Linked DNA regions of Homo sapiens. The protein of the gene in region 1 interacts with the protein of each later gene in a biochemical or structural test. Each region holds a gene or a part of one and is shown in the gene's direction. Other genes may lie near its edges. The genes, in order: SIRT7, POLR1E, UBTF and RRP9.

What was found.
Region 2: the proteins of SIRT7 (region 1) and POLR1E form a complex in vitro, tested with the Homo sapiens proteins (one study listed by BioGRID).
Region 3: the proteins of SIRT7 (region 1) and UBTF form a complex in vitro, tested with the Homo sapiens proteins (one study listed by BioGRID).
Region 4: of the proteins of SIRT7 (region 1) and RRP9, one has a biochemical effect on the other in vitro, tested with the Homo sapiens proteins (one study listed by BioGRID).

Annotation. Positions count from the first base shown.
Region 1 is NC_000017.11:81,911,409-81,915,176, reverse strand, and holds the end of SIRT7 (NAD-dependent protein deacetylase sirtuin-7), read left to right. Parts: intron 1-474; coding exon 475-573; intron 574-646; coding exon 647-883; intron 884-1,009; coding exon 1,010-1,090; intron 1,091-1,296; coding exon 1,297-1,403; intron 1,404-2,562; coding exon 2,563-2,761; 3' UTR 2,762-3,238; downstream 3,239-3,768. UniProt on the Homo sapiens protein: NAD-dependent protein-lysine deacylase that can act both as a deacetylase or deacylase (desuccinylase, depropionylase, deglutarylase and dedecanoylase), depending on the context. Specifically mediates deacetylation of histone H3 at 'Lys-18' (H3K18Ac).
Region 2 is NC_000009.12:37,488,932-37,495,961, forward strand, and holds part of POLR1E (DNA-directed RNA polymerase I subunit RPA49), read left to right. Parts: intron 1-383; coding exon 384-469; intron 470-3,350; coding exon of another isoform or gene 3,351-3,444; intron 3,445-3,725; coding exon 3,726-3,784; intron 3,785-4,627; coding exon 4,628-4,772; intron 4,773-6,237; coding exon 6,238-6,345; intron 6,346-6,958; coding exon 6,959-7,030. UniProt on the Homo sapiens protein: Component of RNA polymerase I (Pol I), a DNA-dependent RNA polymerase which synthesizes ribosomal RNA precursors using the four ribonucleoside triphosphates as substrates.
Region 3 is NC_000017.11:44,209,659-44,216,688, reverse strand, and holds part of UBTF (nucleolar transcription factor 1), read left to right. Parts: coding exon 1-160; intron 161-699; coding exon 700-783; intron 784-879; coding exon 880-1,035; intron 1,036-3,406; coding exon 3,407-3,471; intron 3,472-3,749; coding exon 3,750-3,870; intron 3,871-4,234; coding exon 4,235-4,345; intron 4,346-4,682; coding exon 4,683-4,816; intron 4,817-4,941; coding exon 4,942-5,083; intron 5,084-5,357; coding exon 5,358-5,399; intron 5,400-5,536; coding exon 5,537-5,650; intron 5,651-5,741; coding exon 5,742-5,897; intron 5,898-6,215; coding exon 6,216-6,371; intron 6,372-6,454; coding exon 6,455-6,565; intron 6,566-6,955; coding exon 6,956-7,030. UniProt on the Homo sapiens protein: Recognizes the ribosomal RNA gene promoter and activates transcription mediated by RNA polymerase I (Pol I) through cooperative interactions with the transcription factor SL1/TIF-IB complex.
Region 4 is NC_000003.12:51,938,888-51,946,448, reverse strand, and holds the start of RRP9 (U3 small nucleolar RNA-interacting protein 2), read left to right. Parts: upstream 1-4,544; 5' UTR 4,545-4,581; coding exon 4,582-4,668; intron 4,669-4,941; exon of another isoform or gene 4,942-4,957; coding exon 4,958-5,040; intron 5,041-7,561. Other genes in the region: protein mono-ADP-ribosyltransferase PARP3, read right to left, coding at 106-283, 510-596, 805-954, 1,225-1,451, 1,539-1,671, 1,871-2,059, 2,232-2,360, 2,911-3,093. UniProt on the Homo sapiens protein: Component of a nucleolar small nuclear ribonucleoprotein particle (snoRNP) thought to participate in the processing and modification of pre-ribosomal RNA (pre-rRNA).

The DNA of each region.
Region 1 (3,768 bases):
TTTTTCTGTGGACCTCAGAAGCCATCCTAGTCACAGGGGAGGCTTATAGGACATCTCTGGGGACCTTCTGCTGAACACCCTCAACCAATGGGGTGTAGTGGTTGATCTGCCTAGGTCCCCAGGGACCTGAAATGTCATGACCCAAGAGAGCATGGATCTGGGGCAGAGTGGCCCTTGCCAAACCCCGAGCCACTTCCCAACCTTGCCGGGACGGTGCAACCTCTTGCCCTCCCAGCCACTCCAGGTGCATCAGGGCTGGAGGAAGGACAGCCCCTCCCCACCACAGGCCCTCTTGACTCCTGGTGGTTGGACCTGTTGTGTGTTTTACTTTCTAAGGCTCTCTGGGGGGACGGAGCTGCCCCTGGTTTTGGGAGCCATCGGCGGGGCTCAGAACAGCCTCGCTGTGGCCGGGTACTGACCTCCCCACCACCACTGGCAGCCATCCCTCCCCTTGCCACCCGTTCTGCCTTCCAGGTGCAGCATGTGGTGTCTCAGAACTGTGACGGGCTCCACCTGAGGAGTGGGCTGCCGCGCACGGCCATCTCCGAGCTCCACGGGAACATGTACATTGAAGTGAGCAGTCCTGCAGGGACCCAGGGTCTCCATGGGCAGGCGGGTCCCACTCACTGTGCCCTCTTGCCTCTAGGTCTGTACCTCCTGCGTTCCCAACAGGGAGTACGTGCGGGTGTTCGATGTGACGGAGCGCACTGCCCTCCACAGACACCAGACAGGCCGGACCTGCCACAAGTGTGGGACCCAGCTGCGGGACACCATTGTGCACTTTGGGGAGAGGGGGACGTTGGGGCAGCCTTTGAACTGGGAAGCGGCGACCGAGGCTGCCAGCAGAGCAGACACCATCCTGTGTCTAGGGTCCAGCCTGAAGGTACGTGCCGATGACACAATGAGTGAACCGAGCCCCTGCCCGCCCGAGGGTGTCCAGCTCTGCGGCCCAGCACTGTACAGACTTGTCCCTTGTGTGTGTGCGGTGTCTGTCTGTCTGCTTCCACAGGTTCTAAAGAAGTACCCACGCCTCTGGTGCATGACCAAGCCCCCTAGCCGGCGGCCGAAGCTTTACATCGTGAACCTGCAGGTAACTCGGGTGCTGAGAGCCACGTCCTTAGATCTGGGTCTTAGAACGCACAGCCAGAGACACCCCACACCCATGCACCAGGGCGGTCTGATAGGGCCCCCGTGGGTGCTCAGGGAGCACCGACTGAGCCCGTAGGGGCCAAGGCTGACAGGCCACCGGGAAGGGTTGGGCTGCTGTTACTCTCACTCGGCTTTCCCTGTCCTCAGTGGACCCCGAAGGATGACTGGGCTGCCCTGAAGCTACATGGGAAGTGTGATGACGTCATGCGGCTCCTCATGGCCGAGCTGGGCTTGGAGATCCCCGCCTATAGCAGGTGAGTGAGCCGCTGCAGCAGCCTGCTTCCCCGCACCTCTGTGTGCTGGGCCTTGTCTGTCTTCTCTCGTGAGCTGAGTGTGGAGGAAGCTCTGAGGTGTTTGCAGTGGTGCCTGAGGCATGACTGAAGCGTGGTGGTCTCCAGAGGGCCTGACCTCGGTGGTTGGCGGAGACCCTGCGTGTGCCACTCCTGCCCTGGCTGATGTGGCACACACAATCCCCGCGGGGAGAGGGATTCTGCCCGCGTGCTCCTGCTCCAGGCCTCCCCGTGGAGCTCTCCGAGATGCCTGGTGGGAAGCATCTGGAGGGGACGAGCACTCGGCAGCTCTGGTCAGACAGAATCTGTGTGCTTGGTTTTGGGAGTTGGCGTACTTTGGGAAAGCTTAAACAAACTGTGCCTTAATACAGAATTTGTGATAATTTAGACTTGGTGTATGTATTGAGTAAAAAGTTTACACTCTCTTTCTCTGTGAATTTTCAGGGTCTTATAGGGGAAATCAATAACTTCTTTTAATCAAAGGGTTCAAGAAATTAAGGATCCCTTCACCTTCTGGGCCTGGCACTTCTTGTATGTTATGTGTGTGGTGTTCTGTGATGTGGGCTATCGTGTACTGTATTTTTTTTTTACATTAACTTAGCTCATTTTCCTTATCAGTGCGTATCTGTATCTTAAGTTATGATCTGTGGTTCTGCATCTCCGTCAGACACATGCTTTCTTCACGGGGTCGTCTGTAGGCCACGCCTCCCTAGTCAGCTGGGAAGGGGGAGAGGGTCTGGTCCACCTGCCCCAGCGGTACAAGTGGAAGGTGGGGCCCAGAGTTGCTAGTGACTCATCCCTGGAGACGGAGGCAGCCCTGGGGCCACTGCTGCCCCACCCTGTGTGTGCACGCCGCTCAGTGGTGGACAAGGACACGGAGTTTTGAGGAGACCGAGCTAGTGTGGGTGCCGACCTTTGAGTCACCACCTAAGAGGTGACCTCTCCCACATCCGTTCTGCAGCTTGGTAACAATGAAGCTGCCGCCAACCAGAGCCCCGCCGCAGTTGACACGGGAGGGAAGGGGATGGGAAGGCAGGGACCGCAGACAGCTTTCCCGAGCTGGGGCAGGTGTGACTGCGAGAGGCTCCCAGGCCCGCCTGATGCCGCTTTCCCTTTTTGGCAGGTGGCAGGATCCCATTTTCTCACTGGCGACTCCCCTGCGTGCTGGTGAAGAAGGCAGCCACAGTCGGAAGTCGCTGTGCAGAAGCAGAGAGGAGGCCCCGCCTGGGGACCGGGGTGCACCGCTTAGCTCGGCCCCCATCCTAGGGGGCTGGTTTGGCAGGGGCTGCACAAAACGCACAAAAAGGAAGAAAGTGACGTAATCACGTGCTCGATGAAGAACAGTTGGCACTTTGCAGATGGCCAGTGTCACGGTGAAGGCTGGGTTGCCCCCACGGGTCTAGGGAGAACGAACTCTTTGGGGATGACATTTTCACCGTGACATTTTTAGCCATTTGTCCTTGAGGAAGCCCCTTGCACTGCTGCGGTTGTACCCTGATACGGCCTGGCCATCGAGGACACCTGCCCATCCGGCCTCTGTGTCAAGAGGTGGCAGCCGCACCTTTCTGTGAGAACGGAACTCGGGTTATTTCAGCCCCGGCCTGCAGAGTGGAAGCGCCCAGCGGCCTTTCCTCGCTCACCAGGCCAGTCTCAGGGCCTCACCGTATTTCTACTACTACTTAATGAAAAAGTGTGAACTTTATAGAATCCTCTCTGTACTGGATGTGCGGCAGAGGGGTGGCTCCGAGCCTCGGCTCTATGCAGACCTTTTTATTTCTATTAAACGTTTCTGCACTGGCTTCCGGTGTCCCCGAGTGGTCGGCGCGGGCTCCCCGGGCTCAGGTCTGCCGCCTGGCAGCTCGGTCGTGGCTTAAAACTCCCTTGGTTGGACAGGGGACAACTGTAGATTATTGTGCCAAAAAATAAGAAAAAAAACTCCCCTGGTTGGGACAGCGCCCCGTGGAGGTTCCCGGAGGTGGCGGCGGTGGGACGGTCCCCACGCCGCACTGCCCCGCCAGCCGAGCGCCAGGTGTGGGCGGTGCGGAGAGGCCAGGTGTGGGTCGGGGGGCGGGGCTCGGAAAGCGCGGCACACGCCATTGGCTGTGCGTTTGGAGGGGGCGGGACTCTGTCAGGGGCTCACGCCATTGGCCGTGCGCGGAGGTGCGGTGGGGCGCGGCCTTCGGGGGGTGGGGCTCGGGGCGGAGGGCGGGAGGCGGGGCGGGGGAGGCGGGGGCGGGGCTCGGGCCGAGCGGCGCACGCCATTGGCCGTGCGCAGCGGGTGAGGCCCGCGTGACGGCCGCTGAGCGTGCGCCTGGCGGGGCGGGCGGCG
Region 2 (7,030 bases), on another chromosome or scaffold:
TTGAGAACTTTTGAACAGGAAACAGGGCCAGGTGCAGTGGCTCACGCCTGTAATCCCAGCACTTTGGGAGGCTGATAGGGTCAGATCACCTGAGGTCAGGAGTTCGAGACCAGCCTGGACAACATGGTGAAACCCATCTTTATTAAAAATGCAAAAATTAGCCGGGGATGGTGGCGTGCGCCTGTAATCCCAGCTACTCAGCAGGCTGAGACAGGAGAATTGCTTGAACCCGGGAGGTGGAGGTTGCAGTGAGCCGAGATCATGCCACTCCACTCCAGCCTGGGTGACAGCAAGACTCTGTCTCAAAAAAAAAAAAAAGAAAGCTGTACAAATAATGCTTTTGAATAATCCATTGTTATTTGTATTATTTCTTCTTTATTCAGGCACTTTGTGGGAATTTTGAACAAGACCTCTGGCCAAATGGAAGTATATGATGCTGAATTGTTCAACATGCAGCCACTATTTTCAGGTAGGTCCCAGTCATGAAAGCTGACAGAAATAATGCATAGTTTGGGTTTGCTGGATGAGTTGGCTTGAGTTTTAGATTTATAAAACACATTTTATAGTTATTTTAATTTATTTATTCTGTTTTTTCTGCTTTGTCTGTGTTGAGAAAATGGTTTTTTATATACACACTGTTTTTTGTTTTTTGTTTTTTTTGAGATGCAGTCCCACTCTGTCACCCAGGCTAGAGTGCAGTGGTGTGATATTGGCTCGCTGCAACTTCCACCTCCCGGGTTCAAGTGATTCTCCTACCTCAGCCTCCCGAGTAGCTGGGATTACAGGTGCACATCACCACACCCGGCTAATTTTTGTATTTTTAATAGAGACAGCGTTTTACCATGTTGGCCAGGCTGGTCTCAAACTCTTGACCTCAGGTGATCCACCTGCCTCGGCCTCCCAAAGTGCTAGGATTACAGGCGCTAGCCACTGCGCCCGGCCTAGAGTTTTTTATTCAGCACACACTTATTGATAACCTAATGTACCAGGCACCAAGCTGGGGCTGTGGATGTGGCAGTAAGCAAGACAGACACAGATCCTGTCCCCATAGTGTTTAGAGACTTGAGGTCAGAGGTTCATAAAAGCAATCTGAGCAATGATCAGAGCAGAATATTAGAGGACATGTCTGATATAAAATCTTTTCCATAAAAGAACTTCCTTCATTCTTTTTATTTTTATTTTTTATTTTTGTAAATTACTTTATTTCTTCCTTGATCATTTCAAGGGACTATCTTCAAACCAGTACAAATATTTCATACGTAATACCTGGCCATTTTCTAAACAATCGAGGAGTTTGTTGCACAATAAGCTACCTCACGTCTTTCAGCAAGAAATACATTAAATTTGAAGAGTAAAGACATTACATAATGAACTAGGACATAATTAAAATTTGCCTTAAATATTTCTTTGGGGGAGAGAACACCACACTTCTACTCAATGAAGAGAAACATTTTTACAGTCCAGAGGTCTTTCATTTTTTAAACACCTGTCACGCCATGAATTCATAGGGAATAGGTTCCAGCAGCTCAGGCTGCTTCCCATTGGTTCTCACCAAGTGTGCTTCTCTGGGTGGAGCAGGCTGGCGCTTCAGTTGAACCCAGGTACCTTTCTCTTTTGCTTCTGTCTTTTTCTAATCATCTTTCTTCACCCGTTTCATGAAGCTTTCTCGGCTCTTAGAGTGCTTAATGTGCTCAATACGCACACTAATTCTCTTGGCAAGAATCTTGCCCTTGTTTGTTTACAACAATGCCAGCAGCATGCTAAACTGTAGACGCTTCCAGTTTAGCCATGGTAACACTTGAGGGGCATTCCTTTTTGAACAGTACCCATTCCCTTGATGTCTACGATATCACCTTTCTTATAGATTCACATATATGTGGCCAAAGGAACAACTCCATGTTTTCTAAAAGGTCTAGAGAACATATATTGGGTGCCTCTCCTCTTTCCCTTTGTGTTTGTCATTTTGATGAATTACTGCAAGATGGCAGTTCTGGCCGAAAGGGTTCTTTCTTAATTCTTAACTGTTATAGTTGGGGTAAAGAGGTTTTAGAATTTCTGGTAGACAAAGGAAATTGCTTATTAAGTTGTATAGTAACTTTCACGTTGAGGACAAGTCTCTACACTAATTTGAGGAAGATCTATTTTTTTTCCCTAATCCAGTGGAAGAATTTACATTGTTTCTCTGCTTTGTCATCTTAGAATGCTCAGGGCTAGAGTGAGATCTTCCAAAATAATAAATAAAAGGGTCACACTCAAGGGGCTTCTGTTCCTTAAATCTCAGAACTTGAATCCTTAGTGATGCCCTTAAATACTGGGAACCATGGCAGGATAGGGCGATAGACAAGAAAGAAACATTGGGAGCATTGTGAATCTGCCTGATACCTCAGAGGCATTAGTTCCAGTTTTATTCTCTCAAAGCAGTGCTTCCATCCCTTTTGAGAATCTGCTAAGGACCTGGACCTACTTCTGAGAAACATATATGATACACAAATACATATATATGGGATTTTTTTTAATATGGGATTTTATACATAATTTTTTTTTTTTTTTGAGACCCAGTCTCGCTTTGTCACCCAGGCTGGAGTGTAGTGGTGCAATCTGGGCTCACAGAAGACTCTGCCTCCCGGGTTCTAGCGATTTTCCTGCCTCAGCCTCTTGAGTAGCTGGGGTTATAGGTGTGCGCTACCACACTCGGCTAATTTTTGTATTTTTAGTAGAGATGGGGTTTCACCATGTTGGCCAGGCTGGTCTCAAACTCGTGGCCTCAAGTGATTCACCCACCTTGGTCTCTCAAAGTGCTAGTATTACAGGTGTGAGCCACCGTGCCTAGCCAAATTTTACACGTAATTTTAAAGGTCTCTTGAGTCCGGACACCCATCTGTGAATTTCCTAGGTGTCCCCCTGCTTTGCAAACATATATAACTATATTTAAATCATCTTCCAACTGTTCTTGTAAAATCCAGGGAGGCAAGGAAAATTGTAATTTAACGTGTTGATTAAACATATTTTTGTTGTTATATGTAAGAAGTTTGTAAATATGAGTTTATTCTAGGTAGCACACACACAGAGATAACATTTAAGTCCTTACTATATGCTAGTCACTGTTCTAAGCACTTTCCATGCATATACCAACCTTCTGGAGTAAGTACTGTTGTTCTTTTTTTACCAGTGATGAAACTGGCACAGAGGTTAGATGACCTTATCAGGGGTGATGGCTGAGATAACAGGCAAGGCCACTCCAGAGCTTGTACTGTTGTGTACTAAGTTATACTGCCCTTATTTGAGTACTTTGTAGATGATTGGAGAGCATCGGTAAGTACCACATACCTCATGTTTATGCCTGCTTTTAGGTCTTTCACCAAGAAAGCAAAATTATTTTCTGGAAAGAGCCAAGGACTTGTTTTCTAATCCTGTCTCTGCCACTACCTGGTGAACTGACCTGGGGCAAGTAATTTCATCTGTGGGCCTTCTGTTTTTTAATTTCTAAAATGAAGAGGTTGGGCTGGATGACCGCTTGATTTGGCTAATTTATTTTCCAAGTTCTTTAACTGTATACTAAAGCTGCATATTAAATATTCACAGTATACACTCATGTTAGGCTCAGGGAAGTCCTATAGTAAAGAAATCTATTATTCTTAGATAGACAAATGAATATTAAACACTATTACTATTTGTAGGCCTCCCAATTGACTTTTCTTTCTCTCTGTTTTTGTGTGTTTTGATAGATGTATCAGTTGAGAGTGAACTGGCGCTAGAGAGTCAGACCAAAACTTACAGAGAAAAGGTGAGTGTGATAGAATTAAGATGTGGGACCTTAAGCAAGTTCCTTCTACACCTCGGGTTTCTCCATCAGTGAAATGAGCTTGTTGAACTCAAGGGTCTCCCTGGCTGCTCCCCGCTCATTCAGTCTGTTTCTCTGGACAATTAGTTTGTACCTGCAGAAGCCTCCTTGGTCCCACAGAGAACAGTCTGGCTCCCATCTGGGGCAGCTGAACACAGCTCTGTGCCAATGTTTGGAGTCGGTTCTCTGGGCTGATACAAGTGTAGCATAATGCTTGTTTTTAGGATTTAGTCCAAGTTTTAGAATATATTGGTTGTAGCCTGAAAACATTCACGTTAAAACAAAGTAAACTTGGGGATTTTCAATGTAGAAGGTCCCTACAAAGGTCATCTCACCCCAAGATGACAAACTGATTGAATCTTTGGTGCTGTGTGGAGCACTGTATTGAGAAGGGTTGTGAGGCTACTTTTTGCTTCAGGGGGAAGGAGTCAGTGATCTATTAGCCCTGTCTGTTACGGGTGTAAGATGGGAGAATTACCATTCTACTATTCCTGTCTGTTACGGGCATAGGATGGGAGAATGGTAAGCCATGTGCTACAGATTTGCCAGCCCTAATCCTAGTCAAGTCTTTATATCTTACTGATGGAGATGCTGTTGATTGATCAATCTGTTAATATCATTTGGTGCTTACAGCAGTCCTGTGAGGTAAATAGGTGCGATTCAGCCTTATTCACAGGTGAGGTAGTGATCACTCTGGGATGCTGAGAGTATCCCCATAGTGACACAGCTAGGAGGGGCAGCACCTACCTGTCCTGTCCCCAGTAACCAGGTTTATCTCATAAACAGATGGATTCTTGTATTGAAGCCTTTGGTACCACCAAACAGAAGCGAGCTCTGAACACCAGGAGAATGAACAGAGTTGGCAATGAATCTTTGAATCGTGCAGTGGCTAAAGCTGCAGAGACTATCATTGATACGAAGGGTGTGACTGGTAAGAAGTTGGAACTTGGGCTAAGAGTCTGCCCATAATGACAGCTTTCTCTTCTCTTGAGATCTTTTACCCACCCACACATGGAATGCTGGGAGCTAGGGCTGGATTCCTTTCAGCCTCTTGCTGAAGGCCTTCTCACGGACAGGTTCTGGAAGTAGTAAGAAACATCCGACATGGCTTTGTCTTCTAGTGATCCACAGTCAAGTACAGGGACAGGCATGGAATGGATACATGCCTGCCGTGCTTATGGTGCTGGGGTTATGGCCTGCAGGGCACAGAGGAGGGAGAAGGCCTCAGGTCTCTCCTTGTGCGTTGCAGGGAAGCTTTGGTCAAAAAGGCTGATGTGTTGATGGAAATGAGCCTCCAGAGGTGGCATTTCACTTTGGGATCAGTGGCTCTGTTTCCGGTATTCAGCAGCTGGAGTATTTAATTGTATTATTTTAAAATGTATTTATTGTTCAAATACATTATAAGAACATAAGAGCAAGTTTGTGTAAGAGTAGCTTTTCTTTTTACCGATTTTGGAGATGAGGTCTTGCTATGTTGCCCAGGCTGATCTTGAACCCTTGGCTTCAAGCAGTCCTCCCGCCTCAGCCTCCCAGGTAGCTAGGATTATAGGCGCACACCACTGTGCCCTGGGCAGAGCAGTTTTTCTATTAAGAATGAAATTCTAGTAATTTTTGGAAAATCTTTCCATACCCTATGATTATATAGATTTCAACACTTTCACAAATTTATTTATTGATTGATTGGAGATGGGGTCTTGCTCTATCACCCAGACTAGAGTGCAGTGGTGCAGACATGGCTCACTGCAGCCATAACCTCCTGGGCTCAAGTGATCCTCCTACTTCAGCCTCCCAAGTGGCTGGGATCACAGATGTGTGCCACCATGCTCAGCTAATTTTTTTAGTTTTTTGGAGAGACAGGGTCTTGCCATGTTGCCTGGGCTGGTCTCAAACTTCTGGGCTCAAGCCATCCTCCCGCCTTGGCCTTCCAAAATGTTGAGGTTACAGGTGTGAGCCACCACACCTGGCTGCGGAGTTATTCTTGTGGGGCAGTTACAGTGTTATATTCTGAAAGTTTTGTTCCACCTACAATGTGTGGCAAGTTTTTCTAGAAGTTAAGCCATTAAAGGCTATTTTGGACGTCCCTCACTTTTAGTTTCTCTCATTTTATATTGTAAATGTTTATGTATTAGCACAGCTGTCAATCCCAACTCTATTGTAAGTTACCTGAGGGGAATCTTGTCACCTCCACCTTCTCCAGTGCCTAGCTTGTGTTTGTTCATGAGTGAACATGGCAGTCCTGAAGCAGTCAGCCTGATGGGGAGGCGAGGTCACTTTGGCAGAAGCATTTAGACTTGGGGTTTCTGGACCATTGGTGGTCTGAAGTGCACAGACTGAAAAGAATGTTGGGGAACTGGAAACAAACAGGGTGATACATGGATTGTTTCTTTATTGAAAAGCTCTGGTCAGCGATGCTATCCACAATGACTTGCAAGATGACTCCCTCTACCTTCCTCCCTGCTATGATGATGCAGCCAAGCCTGAAGACGTGTATAAATTTGAAGATCGTATCCTTCTTGCAGTAGAAAAGCTGCCTTATTTCACAAGTTGAGATGTTTGCACGTGTGTGCAGTCAGGTTCTCTGAGGGTGTCTGTGTTCTGTGACATTCACAAGAGCTCCATCCAAACCTTTGCAGTTGCTCAGTGCTCTTGCCAGGAGGTTAACTTGGCTTCCTCACTAGCTGAGGGACCGGCCCCTGGGATTCAAATCCATTCCTCAGCAAAATGCCAAATGCCCACAGCTTAGACCTGTGGGGCTCACTCTCCATGGAGAGTCAAAATAAGAGTTGAACCAGCCAAATGCCCAAAGTCTAGGGCAGACCACTTTTGTTGAAGGAAGGGTTGGAGCTTAGAATTTCACCACCCAAGGGGTCCGGTCAGAAGGAAAATGCCTGCAGTGGCTTTGTGATGAGAAAAAGCAGAAAAGCCTGGGCAGGGAATGGGCTCTGGGCTGGGAGTCGGAGAACTGAGTCACCAAGCTCTGCCCCTATGTGATCTGCCCTGTGTGATCTTTGGCTCTCTGAGCCTGTTTCCCTGTCTGTGAAATGCCACTGCTATGAGATGACCTAGCTAGTTGGATGTTTCTATTTTGGTTGGATTATATTCTTGACCTGTAACTAGTTCTTTCCCCTGCGGAGTATGAAGCTCTTCAGAGCCCATCTGAAGCTTTCAGGAACGTCACGTCAGAAGAAA
Region 3 (7,030 bases), about 38 Mb from region 1:
AGACATGCTGACTTTGCTGGAATGCATGAAGAACAACCTTCCATCCAATGACAGCTCCAAGTTCAAAACCACCGAATCACACATGGACTGGGAAAAAGTAGCATTTAAAGACTTTTCTGGAGACATGTGCAAGCTCAAATGGGTGGAGATTTCTAATGAGGTAACTGATCCCCCTTTTCTGACATACACACATACCCCCCACTCAGCGTGGTGGGGGAAGTGAAACAGGCTGTAAACAGGAAGGAAAGAGACCAGGAGAGGCATTCATGTGGTCTCCCGTTAGCTCTCTACCTGCCCCTTTGCATTTTGGGAGGTGGCACGGTTGACAGCACTGGCTTAAAGTTATGCCACTTTCTATCTGAGTGGTCTTGAGCCAAACAGCCTGAGCTGTGCTGAGATTGACGGAGGTGCTAGCATGCTGAGATTGACGGAGGTGTTAGCATGGACAACCAGGTTGAGGTCAGTTAGTCCCCTTGTTGCTGGCCTTTGGTGTGTACTGACTGCCTGGGCCTCTGCGGTAGGCATGGGCCAGTGCCTGGGTGTCATGCTGCCTGCTTCATTTGGCTGTTGGCCTCTGCTCTTCTTTGGTAAATTTAGTCTAGTAAAGAGTAGAAGAGACCCGTTATAAGATGGGGGTATACTACTGTGTGGCATTTTCCTTTTCCCAACTTCCCCTTCCTCCCACCCCTCTTCCTCCAGGTGAGGAAGTTCCGTACATTGACAGAATTGATCCTCGATGCTCAGGAACATGTTAAAAATCCTTACAAAGGCAAAAAACTCAAGGTGAGTTACTAGGAGGAGGAGCATGAGGGGTATGGGAGGAAAGGTCCAAAGAAGGGATGTATTTGACCTCCATTGTGTCCTTGTCCCTTCTTCCAGAAACACCCAGACTTCCCAAAGAAGCCCCTGACCCCTTATTTCCGCTTCTTCATGGAGAAGCGGGCCAAGTATGCGAAACTCCACCCTGAGATGAGCAACCTGGACCTAACCAAGATTCTGTCCAAGAAATACAAGGAGCTTCCGGAGAAGAAGAAGGTGGGGGGAGGAGAGTTAAGGTGGGAGGAGGGGAGAGGCTGGGAGCAGCTGGTGTGGTGTGGGTCAGTTGGAGGTAGGCCTTGGAGAAACCTGGCATCAGGGATGAGGGTGAGTCAGCACAGCAGAATAGGTCCTGGGCAGCCACACCTGATTGCCCCTTCCTCGGCCCACACATGGTCAGGCACAGGCACCATCACAGATGTAAACCAGACAGCAGGTGCTCAGACCAACCTTTCCCCCTACAGAAAACCCACAGCATTCTGTTTCAAGCTCTCTCTCCCCCATACACCCATCCTCACTGTTAGGCTCCGCAGCACTTCTTCACCCTCTATGACGTTTCCCGTCATGGTCTCATTTGATACTTGCAATGTCTTTATAAAGGTAACCCTAGGAAAAGGTTATCCCAGTTTTGTGGGCAAGGAACTGAGGTGCAGGAGGGTTAAGTGTCCCGGGTGACACAACTATTGATGCTAGAGCAGGATTTAGTGCCCCAGAGTCCCAGTCCAGTGCTGTTACTGCCACGTCCACCTGTGAAGTGCACTTCTCCACGCACACGTGTTCACTCAAGGACACACATTGTCCCTCCTGGCCTCATACTGTTCCTTGCAGAGGTCGGGCACTGTCCCAGACCATCAAAGCATTAACTCTGGGTGGAGGGTTGCCTAAGCCTCCCAGGCAGGGCTCAGTCACAGAGCTCAGGAGGTCCCTCCCAGAGATAGGCAGCAAAACATTGGAGGAGCCTGCAGATGGGACACGAGGAAGATGGGATGGGGACAGAGGACACAAAGAAGAGACACGGGACAAGGAGACAGAGCCAGGGATAGATGGGGAAGGGCAGCAGGAAAGACAAGAAGCACATCTGCTTGGAGAGGAAACAAAGTCATACACAGCCAGTTCTCAAAAGGGGGCACTGGCCGCTGCCATGCTATGAGTAGCCCTTTTTCCTGGTTGGCATACCCTGGCTGCAGACTCACATGCCCTTGGTGCTGTACCCAAAAAAGCCAGCTGTCTGCAACCACTGCCCAAGCAGAGAGGGGTATGGATTGCTGGAACTGTTGACCCCTTTGATGAGGATGTTGGACAGTTGACTGCACACACCCAAACACTCTCATGGGATGGGAGGGAGAGGCCAAGCTCTAGAGTCAGAGCCAGGGAAGGCCAGAAGAAACTGGTAGAGTGGACAAGGTGCTGTCCTGGGGGACACAAGACTTGGGCCTGTTCTCCTGGCTCTGCCACTGAACCGCTGTGTATGGGGCCTTTGGTAAGTCATTTCACTTCTGTGGGCCTGGTCTTTATGTGAGGTGAGCCAGGTCTGTGTGGTCCCCTTCAGGTCTAAAACTGTTTTGTCTGAGGAGGACTGAGATGGGGGAAGAGGAGGCTGAGCTCTGCTTCTGGTTTTCTGTGGGAACTGTGGGAAAGGAGCACTGCCTTTCTATGCCTGGTGCTTCTATAAGAGGCAGGGGTTGGGCTCAGTTGCCATGAGCTCCTGGCACCTGCCAGTGCCACTCTTGTGAGCCCGCGAGGATGAAAGAAGAGATGGACATTGTGTGGGAGCCAAGAGAGAAGGTCGATGAGGAAGAGAAAGAGACACATTGGAAAGGAGGAACAAGAAGGAGACTATGGAGAAGTGGGGAAAGATGCAGGGAGGGAGTGAGGTGAGAGTGGGGAGGCTAAAAAGGGGGTGATGAAGGGAAGGGAAGCCAAGTGGTGGGAAAGAATGAGTGGGCTGAGGGAGGGAGGGCTGGAGGGGCCAGACAGCCAGGATCCTGGAGAAAGAGAAGAAGGTGATGGTGTGAGAACTGGGCAGGAAGATGCAGGGTAGCTGGCTGAGACTTGTATTGGAAGAACTCGCTCTGGGTTCCCCTCCACACAATCTCCCCTCATGCCTTGGAAACAGGACTCAGCCCAGCCCTGGCCATAGATGTAGAGGCTACGTACAAGGGGACAGACTAATGTCAGCTGCCACAGACAGTGAGAAGAGGGAGTGACAGGAGCAAGGCCTGCACCCGACGCCACTGTGAGAGTTCTATGGTGTTGGAGAAACGAGTGGGGGAGGCTCAGCGCTGCCACTGCGCACTGTGTGACCGTGGGTAATGCCATGGCCCCCTTCTGGGACTCTTGCTCAGAAGGAGAGAATAGGATGTAGGATTCAGTGTCTGGGCGACCCCTGCAGCTCCCACCATCTGTGGTAGAAGCCAGCAGGTCTGCTCTGTGGTGAGTCCCGCCAGGAGGCGGGCAGGGCGCCAGCCTCCACTCCCTGCATCACAGCGTGGGAGGCAGAAGAGCCAGCGAGGAGGGGTCTGGGTGGCCTTCATAGCTCAGGGTGAGATACCCTTGGGTCCTGAGTGACCCCATCCCCTCCTCCCCCCAGATGAAATATATTCAGGACTTCCAGAGAGAGAAACAGGAGTTCGAGCGAAACCTGGCCCGATTCAGGTAAGGCAGTGGAGCCCAGAGGAGGGCCACGGGGCACTGGGGGCAGCAGAATAGGCTAACCCTGGCCAGAGCCTTGAGTTTGCCATCTCTGAGGCATGGAAGAGGATGGGTCACATGTGAGCCCTAGTGTGTCATGCTCAGGGACAGAGACAGGCAGGCAGCCACCGTCCCACTGAGCCCCAGCTGAAAGGCCCAGGAGGCTTGGTGGGTGGGGCAGCTAGCTTGAGTCTGCCCTGGCAGCGTCCCCTGCTGATCCTTGCTCCCCGTGTCCTGGCTAGGGAGGATCACCCCGACCTAATCCAGAATGCCAAGAAATCGGACATCCCAGAGAAGCCCAAAACCCCCCAGCAGCTGTGGTACACCCACGAGAAGAAGGTGTATCTCAAAGTGCGGCCAGATGTGAGTGTCCGGCCAAGGGTTGGGGGTGGAGGATGCACGGCGGTGGCCAGGGGGGAGCCGCGCCAGGTCGGCCGGGCACGGTGCAGGGGAGCAGGAGAGGAGGCCCCTCCCCAGGGGTGGGCTGCATGGACAGGGCCCGGGCCAGCTGGCGTGCAAGCGTGTGCGTGTGTGCGTGCGTGTATGAGCCAGTCCCCTTGCACCCAGGCGGGATCCCCGCCTCTCCGCCTTCCCCTCCTGGCCTGTGGGGGACACTGATGTGACCTCCCATGGCCTGAGGGGGCGGGGGCCTCTGTGCCCCCTTCCCCCTTCCCCCCTCCCCCTGCCCCTGGCTGCCTGTGCGTGTCTGACGGCTTTTGGTTTGCAGGCCACTACGAAGGAGGTGAAGGACTCCCTGGGGAAGCAGTGGTCTCAGCTCTCGGACAAAAAGAGGCTGAAATGGATTCATAAGGCCCTGGAGCAGCGGAAGGAGTACGAGGTTAGGCTTCCGCTGCGCTCCTCCCCGTCCGGCTCTTCACGAGCCTCTGCCCTCCGACTCCGTGGCCACCGCACTCTGCGGGAGGTGTCACTCCCCATCCCTCTGTTGAGGGAGGGGCCTTCTGGGCCCCTCACCTCTGCCCCTACCTTCCCCACCCCCCACCCCCATGAGATCTCAGGCTAGGGCAGGGCAGGGCACCACGTCTCGTGTGACACCACTGACGCGCAGCCACCCCCAGCTTTGCTCCCTGCCTGCCCTCCCCAGCGGCTCTCCCCCTGCCCCTGCCCTAGCTAACTCCACACCCCATTGCCCTCCGTCCCCCCACCTGGCTCTGCAGGAGATCATGAGAGACTATATCCAGAAGCACCCAGAGCTGAACATCAGTGAGGAGGGTATCACCAAGTCCACCCTCACCAAGGCCGAACGCCAGCTCAAGGACAAGTTTGACGGGCGACCCACCAAGCCACCTCCGTGAGCGCTGCCCTGGGATGGGTGGGCGAGTGGGCAGCTGGGAAGTTGGGCTGGGCTCTGCAGGTGAGAAGGCCTGCTGCCCTGCTCGCTTACGGGCTGCACCTCTCTCCCCGCGGCTCTGATAGGAACAGCTACTCGCTGTACTGCGCAGAGCTCATGGCCAACATGAAGGACGTGCCCAGCACAGAGCGCATGGTGCTGTGCAGCCAGCAGTGGAAGCTGCTGTCCCAGAAGGAGAAGGACGCCTATCACAAGAAGTGTGATCAGGTGAGCTGTGGCAGGGGCCACCCTGCCTTGGGGTTTTGAAGCATGAGGTCTGATCCCATCTTGGGCCAGTCAGTCCCTGGTGGCGTGTGCCTTGGGTACCTGCCTCCAATACAGTGTGGGGCTGGGCTGGGCTTAGCAACTGAGCCCGTCCAGGCAGGGAGTCCAGCCCACACCCAGGCTCTGGAGGCCCGCTGAAGGTCACTGTCCTCCGAGTACTGCAGGGTCTGTGGTGACACTGTCTCCAGACTGATCCTGACTCCACTCACTTTCCCAGAAAAAGAAAGATTACGAGGTGGAGCTGCTCCGTTTCCTCGAGGTGAGTGTTCCTCCGGTGGGGCAGTGGGCAGAGAAGACTGGGACTTGGCAGGCAGAGCCCTGGTGAGCCCCTGGAGATAGGGCACCATGCAGTCTGGGTGCCAGGCATGCAGCCCCGTGCTCCTCTTTCCTGTCCAGAGCCTGCCTGAGGAGGAGCAGCAGCGGGTCTTGGGGGAAGAGAAGATGCTGAACATCAACAAGAAGCAGGCCACCAGCCCCGCCTCCAAGAAGCCAGCCCAGGAAGGGGGCAAGGTGGGCAGAGGGTGCGGCCGCGCAGGCGGGGGTGGGCAAGACTGGGCTCCCTGGCAGCACCCACGGACCCCGACCCTCTGCACCTGGACAGGGCGGCTCCGAGAAGCCCAAGCGGCCCGTGTCGGCCATGTTCATCTTCTCGGAGGAGAAACGGCGGCAGCTGCAGGAGGAGCGGCCTGAGCTCTCCGAGAGCGAGCTGACCCGCCTGCTGGCCCGAATGTGGAACGACCTGTCTGAGAAGAAGAAGGTCAGGCTGCCTGGCGGAGCGCTGTGCCCCCAGGGGGGCTGCCAGGGCCCCCTCTTCCCCTTGGCGGGCCGTGCCACCTCGCCCCTGGCCGCCTGAGCCACGCGGTGCCTGGGCTGGGACGTGGGGCCGGCGCCCAGCAGCCGGAAGGCGGGAAGCTGTCAGCTGAGCGCCGCAGACCAGGCGGGGGCGAGCCCCAGGCGGGAGACATCTGCACCAGCCCATGCTTCTGCCCGCCGGCGGGAGCGCCTGGGCTGCTGCGCGGGGAGCGCGCGCCCCCTGGGGGTGGGTGGAAGGCTGACGCCCGGGCCATCCCCGCAGGCCAAGTACAAGGCCCGAGAGGCGGCGCTCAAGGCTCAGTCGGAGAGGAAGCCCGGCGGGGAGCGCGAGGAACGGGGCAAGCTGCCCGAGTCCCCCAAAAGAGCTGAGGAGATCTGGCAACAGAGCGTTATCGGCGACTACCTGGCCCGCTTCAAGGTGACAGGGGTGGGAAAGGGTAGTACTGCAGCCTCTAGCCCCGGGTGACCCCTCCCACGGCTGATACCCTTATTGGTCCCCAGAATGACCGGGTGAAGGCCTTGAAAGCCATGGAAATGACCTGGAATAACATGGAAAAGAAGGAGAAACTGATGTGGATTAAGAAGGCAGCCGAAGACCAAAAGCGATATGAGGTAGGAATGGGGCTGGGGCCACCCCATTCATTGAAAGCTCGGGAACTCCCCTTTGGTTGGGCAGCTCTGAGCAAGAAGTCCCAGCCTTGGTCTGTGACTCTCAGCAAGTCTCAGCTTCCTTCTCTGAACCTCTGTCTCTCATCAGTAAGGTGGGGGTGACATTGCTAACCTCCAGGCTGACTCGGAGGATGCGAGCAGTTGTGAAAGCACTTGTAAACTGTGGTGCCTGCCTCAGACGTGAGCTGTTAGGAAGTTGCTCACTAGCTACCTGTTTCTCCTCCTCCCTGGCACAGAAAAAGACAGCCAGCTAAGGTGCTGATGGCATGAGGCAGAAGGCAGCAGTATTTTGGGGGTGGGACTGGGGGGTGAGCGTGACCTTTCTCCCTCCAGAGAGAGCTGAGTGAGATGCGGGCACCTCCAGCTGCTACAAATTCTTCCAAGAAGATGAAATTCCAGGGAGAACCC
Region 4 (7,561 bases), on another chromosome or scaffold:
AGGATTCCTCTCTTGGATTCACCATGAATTTCCAGTGGCCAAGGACTGGGCCCAATCCATCTTAGTGCCAACCCTCCCAGGGCTTGGCCCAGAGGGGCACCTCACCATATCCAGCTGACTTGCTGTTCTCTGAGGCAAAGTAGATGCCCTTGCCAACACGCCCACCAGAATGTGGCATGATGCGGAGCCCACTAGTGAGGATGGCGGCCACCACGGCCATGTTGGTGCCATGCCACAGCAGCTTCCGATTACCCAGTTTGGAGTGGGCCTGGAATCTGTCTTCCTGAGTGGAGAGGAAGTGAGAAATGGGAGTGATGCCACCCGAGCACTCAGTCGCCTTGCCCTGCTGCTTGTGACCAAGGCCTAGTGTCCCTCTGCTTACTCACGCGCACTCATGGCCGGCAGAAACTGACCAGAGCTGCTAAACGATTTGCTAAGGGACCGATTAGCCAAGGACATCTTCCTAAGGCACAGTGGTGATGGGGGAGAGGTGGGGGAACCTCCCTCACCTCCCCTTCTTGGTTTACTTTCCAGATGTGTTGAAGTGTAGGGCACCTGTGGTTGCTGCCAGTCTGTTCTAAGTAGGTCTGTATCACCTGTGGGGAGAGCAGAAGCTGGTTGCCAGGGTGGGAGGCTCAGGAGCTAATCCCCCATTTTTCTTCCCCCAGTCCCAAGCCCTCCTCAGGCCCTGGAGACACAGGAAGAGAAGGCTGAGGGCGAGTATTCCTCTGGGCACCTCGAGGGCAGGTGGGCAGAGGGACAGTGCCCACTGATAGCCTGGCCCCTCTGTGGGGCCCAACTCACCTTGTACTCAGGTGCTCCAGAGTCTAGCAGCTGCAGCTGGCACTTGAGAAGCTGGTAGTCTCGGTCCAGGGGGTGTGGCACCTCCTCCACCGTCTTCTCCTGCTCAGAGACTGCCTGCAGGGCCTGGGCCAGCTCGATGTCCGCCAGCACCTAGGATGATGGGCCCTGGCAGTTTGTCTTCCCACTTGACCTCTGGCCTCCCCTCTCCTCTCTCACATGACTGGTATTGTAGCCACCCCACCTGTGTGTCCCACCTGTCCCTCCCCACCCTATCTGTCTGCCCAGCCTTCCCCACCCGTCTGTCAGCCTGCCCAGGCAGTCCATCCTTCTGGGCCTTCTTGGCCACCTGCCCTTCATCTCGCTCGCCTAGGCTGTCTGTTCAGTGCCCCACTGCCTGCCCGCACCCCTGCCAGCCCTCACCAGCAGCATGTCCTTCTTGGCCTGCAGAAGCTCAGGGGAATTGATGGGCGGGGGCTGGCTGTGGCCGAAGTTGTGCGGGATGACGGTGTAAAAGTGTGAGGACAGCTCCTCCAGGCTTTGGCCACCATCCGTGGGGCCTTTCAGGGCCTCCTCCAGCGCCTCCAAGGCCTCGAAACCCCGTGCAATCTGTTGCTTGCTCAGCTTTCCCAGGGGCATCTTCTTCACATCTAGGGGGACAGGGGAGTGGGGAGACTCAGCCCCACAGCCCTGCCACCCTGAGGCCCCTGCCACCCTGCCTGCCTCTCACCCCTCACCCAGGTCCATGAGGGCCATGGTGTTCTTGAACATCTCCTTGCTGAAGATGTTAGTGATGAGCTTCTGCGTGGCTGGGTCCAGGGAGCAGGGCTGCACCCGCTTAGTCACAGTCCTCACTGGGCCTCTGTCCACCTGAAGATAGAGGGCACATGTGGGCAGGAGCAGCGGGGCAGGGCGTGACACCAGACAGAGACCAGCCAGCCTGAGGCCAGAGGGGAGTTCTGTGGCTGAGGCTGCGCAGCTGGGCAGTGGCAGAGCCCAACCAGCGGGAACTCTCCAACGAGTCCCCTCCCTCAGTCCAGGGCCTGCCCACCTTCCTTGGCCATCTCACCTTCACCACAGCTTCCTGGGCCTCATCCTCTGCCTGTACTTCGATAAGTGTGTACTTGCCCGGGTGAGACACAAAGTGGTCCCGCTCTGCCCAGTTGTTCTTGGTCTTTTCCCGAAATTTCTTCTCAAAGTCCTTCTTTGCATCTTCTAGCCTTGTGAAGTGGTTGATCTTTGACTGGCCGACCTCTCCCTGCAACCGACAGCCTTCAGGGGTATGCCCACCATCAGCATTTGCTGGCCTGTGTGTCGGGCCAGGCCCTGTGCTGAGTGCCCTGGGACAGTTGGGAGGTGCCCCCCCAAGTCAGTAGCTGTGGCCTTTTGAGGACCCTGGGGAGTATGTGCAGAGCAGGCAGGGCACTCACCACACGGCCCCAGCGGTTCCAGCAGGTGAAGAAGCGGTTGCTGTCTTGGAGCAGCTGGATGATGTAGAACTTGTTGTTGTTGTTCTCGATGTTGGTCTGGTTCAGGGTGCAGTTGTAGTCCTCATACACCTGGGCCAGAGGGGAGGTGGGGGGCAGGCTGGCTGGGGTCAGATGGGGTGCCTGGCCGTACACCGAGAGGGCTCTGATGGGGACAGGAGTCTGACGGCAGTGGGAGTCAGAGGGACCCTGTCTTGGAAGCTTGGGGGGGTCACTGCTCTTCCCTAGGGGATGCGGTGTGAGAGGACATGGCTAAACCCTGACATGGAGGTATGGGGGGTGCTGGGGGGGACACAGCTGGGCCCTGGATGGGGGAATCTGAGAGGGACATGGCTCTGCCCTGAGGGGACATGGGCAAGCGCCCAGGAGACTGATGTAGTCACAGCCTTTCCCTAAGTGCGGTGGGAGGAGGCCTGCATGGGGTCTGAAGGGCAGATGTGACCCGCCTGGACCTGACGGGACACAGCCCTGATGTCTGGGGTCAGGAGAACATGGCCTTGCTCTGGCGCTTACCTGGGGGCCTTGGGCTCCAAAACCAGAACAGAGTCCTAAGGGGGTGGCCTGGGTGTGTTTGTGCTTATCAGTGGGCAGGCTCTGGGCCTGACTGGGGACTGCAGCTCACCTGGGTCCCGGGGTTGCTGCTGAGTGGACATGTTGGATCCACGCGGATTATGCGCTTCTCTGCGGGTATGGCCTTGAGGGCCTCAGCGGTGGAGCGGAAGGGGTCCTCCTCCCTTCCTGCCTGCCGGCCCTTCTTCTTCTCAGGGCCCTCAGTCTGTACCCAGGGCTTCGGCTTTGGAGCCATGGCTGTCCTGGGGCACAGAGAGGCCCTTAGGCCTCCATGGTCTCCTCATCCCCAACGACCCACTCTCAGTCCCCACCCCTGCCCTGGGCCAGCACAGCACCAACTTGCCCCACCCCGGGTTGGCCCTTCGGTGGCCTCCCACTGCATCCTGTGTCCACTCTGACGGCATTCCCAGCCCCAGACCACACCCAGCTCTTTGTCACTCAGAAACACCCCTTTCCCCAGTCCCAAGTGCAAGGTTAGGACTCTGTCCAGTCTGCCCACTCTGGTCAACAGGGTCTGCCTGGCTCCCTACCCTCTGCAGCTCACCTGTGTGTCCTGAGGGGTAGGGAAAGTGAAAGGAGGCTCTCTCTCTTCCACTTCGGGGCTCCTCCCCCTGTGTCAGCTAGTTCAGCCCTGGCATGGTTGCCGGGCCGAGTCACCGAGCTATGGGGGAGGGTGGGCAGAGGATCCTGGGGGCAGGATTCTTGGGGCCAGATTATCCTCCCGGAGCTTAGAACCCAGAGCTGTAGAAGCCCTTCCCAATGGACTCAAGAGTTCTGAGGAGCCAGAACTCCGGATCAGTGGCCTTGAACTGATAGAGGGCAAAGGCCAGTCCCACCAGGCCTTGCCCTGCCCTGCCGTGGGCAGGACCATAGGACACTCACCCAAGAAAAGCAGGGACATGGGAGAGGTCCTGGCTGCCACCCGGCCTGGTTGTGTGCGCCTCCCAGGGCAGTCCCAGGTCTAGCAACTCTCCATGAGCCTCAGGCGTGAATTAGGGAGAGAATTCCCAACAATCGCCAGAGGCCGGGGATGAGCTTGTGTGGGGGATTAGACATCGGCTATTTGGCCACCAGTGGGGTGAAGCAGAGGCTGGGGCAGGCCGAGTCAGGCGACCAGTCCCACGGACGGGTGGACACTCGATCTGGCATATCCAAGGCCGGGGCAGTCGCGTCCGTAGCGCTGCTCATGTGGCCGGGGCCTGCAGCACGCATCTGCCGGTCGCGCGGTGACCTTGGGCCCGGATACAGACGCAGCCTCCCTCTCCCCGGGGCTGCTTGGATCCCCGTTGGGTCTAGCGCCGGGCTGCCCATGGAGGGGAGGAGTCACGTTCCAGAACGCGAAAGGGCGCCGCGTCTCTGGCGCCCCCCAGCGGCCAAGGGGCGCAAACACAGAGAAGGCTCTTGCTCCGACTTCGAAGTGGGCCAGCAGCAGAGCGCAAGCGCCACAGCATCAGGCCGGAAGCGCCGTGGAGATGCGGGCTTCCTACTCGAGCCTGGTGCGGGAGCCTAGGAACTTCAGGAGGCGGGGCTACAAGCGTGCATCCTATGGGTGCCTGGGGGCGTGGCAGAGCCTGCAGAAGGACCCAATGGAGCAGTAGGAGGCGGGGCCCGGCGGGCGGTGGAAGCCTATCAATACGCGGGGTCTTGCCAGGCGGCTGGGGAGCTGGGAGGGTTCAGCTGCCACGTGAGTTCTGCGGCCGCTGCTACACGCCTGGTGGGCAGCATGTCGGCAACAGCGGCTGCTCGTAAGCGGGGAAAGCCGGCCTCTGGGGCCGGGGCTGGCGCGGGGGCCGGCAAGCGGCGGCGAAAGGTGAGCATGGCGCTTCTGAGGGCCGCGGTCAGCCCTGCTACTGGGACAACCGTCATCCCATCCAGGGGACCTGGGTCCCGGCCCTTCCCCAGCCCTTCGCCCTGGACCCCTGCTGGAGTCAGCTTCGTCCCTCTCTCCGCGGGCCAAATCCTAGAAAGCCGTTCGCTTAACCCGGGAACCACCGCCTTCCCCATTCCTGGGGTTCTGAGGGAACCGAGGGGGGGGGGCCCTTGGTCAATGCCAGGGTGGTCTGGACCCCTGACCAAAGAAAAGACCGTATAATTCCCAGGCCGACTCTGCGGGGGACAGGGGCAAATCCAAGGGTGGCGGCAAGATGAATGAGGAGATCTCCAGCGACTCTGAGAGCGAGAGGTGAGCTATTCTTTTCCACATAGTGGGAGGGAAAACTGAGTCCCATGGTGCACGGAAGACTGAGTGAGTCCGAACAGAACTGAGCCTAGAATCCAAGACTCTGTCCCTTGGCTCTGAGATCGTGGCTGTTTCCTTTAGTTTCTGGTCCTGCAAAGTCTTGTTTCTGCGAGGTCTCTGGGTGGGAAGGACCCTGGGCCCCAATCCGAGGCCATTGAGACCTCCTTAGGTTTTGGCAGGGACTGGACTGATTGAGAAATTGCAGGAAAACAGAACAAAGCTGTCAAGTATTTCTTGCATCCTTCTTCCCTTGCCAGTTTTCCTGCAATTTCACAATTACTGGGCTCCCCGTCTCTTAACATGCCAGGCACTGCCTTTGCTGTTGGAAGTGCAGAGATAGGCAGGCGGGTGAAGAGAGTGTGTTGTAGTGAGGTGTGTATTTTATAGTTGTGTGTTCTGGGAACAGAGGAGGGACATTTAAATAGGGTCTTGAGAGATGAAGAGGAGTCTCTCACGGAGAGGTAGGGAAGGCATTCAGTGATCAGAGGAAAGTCTGAGGTGTAAGTGTGCCAGAATGGGCAGTAGAAAAGATGAAAGGGGGCTGGGCCTGGTAACTCATGCCTCTAATCCCAGCACTTTGGGAGGCCAAGGCGGGAGGATTGCTTGATGTCAGGAGTTTGAGACCAGCCTGGGCAACATAGCGAGATCTTGTCTGTACAAAAAAAAAAAGTTAGCTGGGTATGGTGGTGTGCACCTGTAGTCCCAACTACTCAGGAGGCTAAGGTTTGGGGATCCCTTCCCAGGGAGTTGAAGCTGCAGTGAACTATGATCATGCACTGCTCTCCAGTCTGGGTGACAGCAAGATCCTGTCTCTAAAAAAAAACCACACACAAAAACAGGAGGACTGGTCATAAGTGCATGTAGATTGTAGAGGGCTTTGGATGCCTCCCTCATTTCTGCAGGTGATGGGTGTGGTTGCTTGCAGGTTTTCAAAGGGTCAGGCATGGTGTCAGGCCTGACCCTGTGGGTTGGAGGCTCTTGGACCAGAGAATCCTAGTGCCTTCCCTATGAGTTGACTTTAGAACTCGCTTCTAAAATTGAGTATGTGTTGCCTTAATTTGCTCATGGAAAGAATGTACTTTTTTTTTTTGTTTTTGAGACAGAGTCTCACTCTGTTGCCCAGGCTGGAGTGCAGTGGTGCGATCTCGGCTCACTGCAACCTCTGCTTCCCAGGTTCAAGTGATTCTCCTGCCTCAGCCACCTGAGTAGCTGGGATTATAGGCCTGCACCACCATGCCTGGCTAATTATGTATGTTTAGTAGAGATGGAGTTTCACCATGTTGGCCAGGCTGGTCTCGAACTCCTGACCTCAAGTGATCCGCCCATCTTAGCCTCCCAGAGTGCTGGGATTATAGGCGTGAGCCACCACACCCAGCCATTAATGTACTTTTCTTAATCCGAAGGTTATTGTGGGTGAGTGTGTGCCAGGCTAGTGTGGGCTAAGTGCTTTTAAATATTTTTAGAATGTTGTGTTGTGAAGTGTGTTAGATACAGAAAAGTGAATGAGATATATTTGCACTACAGAGAGTAATGGTAAAATGGTAAACCTCTGTACACTTACTTACCACTTAGGTTAAGAACTAGAACATTTGCAGAAACTTAGAAGCCGCAACTGTCATTCCTAACTTGAGTTAATCATTTCTTTGGTTTCTTTGTTCTTCTTTTAAAAAATTAACATTTTCCATTTAGGTATAATTTACATATAGTAACATGCCCTTTTTAAAGTTATAGTTCAGTGAGTTTTGACAAACACACACAGTTGTGTGACCACCTCTACCCTGAAGGTAAAGAGTTTCATCACCCTCCAGAACTCCTCCTGCTCCTTCGTAGTCAGCCCCTCTCCTTCCCCCCAAGTCTCTGCTAACCACTGCCCCTAGAGTTGTGCATTTTCTAGCATGCCCTGTAAATGGAATCATAGTGTGTACTTCCCTTGCATTTCTTTAGCGTTCTGTCTCATGCGTATGAATCCTTCAACAATAGATTAATTAGTTTGGCTAAATTGAGTAGAAGTCCGAAGTTAACACAGGTCCCTTGGCTGTGTAAGGGAAGGGCAGCACTAGCCCTGTTGGCTGAAGGCTTGCCAGGCACAGGGCACTAAATTATTTCTGGGGCATGGTCCAGCTTTGGCTTTCCTGAGAGTTTTCAAGGTCCCTTCTGGGGAAGTCAGGGGCAGGTTTACGAGTGAGTCTTGGGAAACACGGTTAGGGGAGTGGACAGAGACTAGATGTCTTCAGGCACATGATCAGAGGGAGTGGGCTGCCTTGGATTCTCTGTGTCTGAGTGCCCATGACCTACCCCCAGCTCCCAGGAGCAGGTCAAAGCAGCACCTGTCTTTGGGTGAAGTGAGTACTCTCAGCTGGTCCGGGGGCTGGGGCATGGAGGGGAAAGCCGTAACTTCACCAGTAAAGGCCAATCCCCAAACAGTGAAGGTTCGCTTGGAACCTTGTTCCCAGGGTAAAGGATG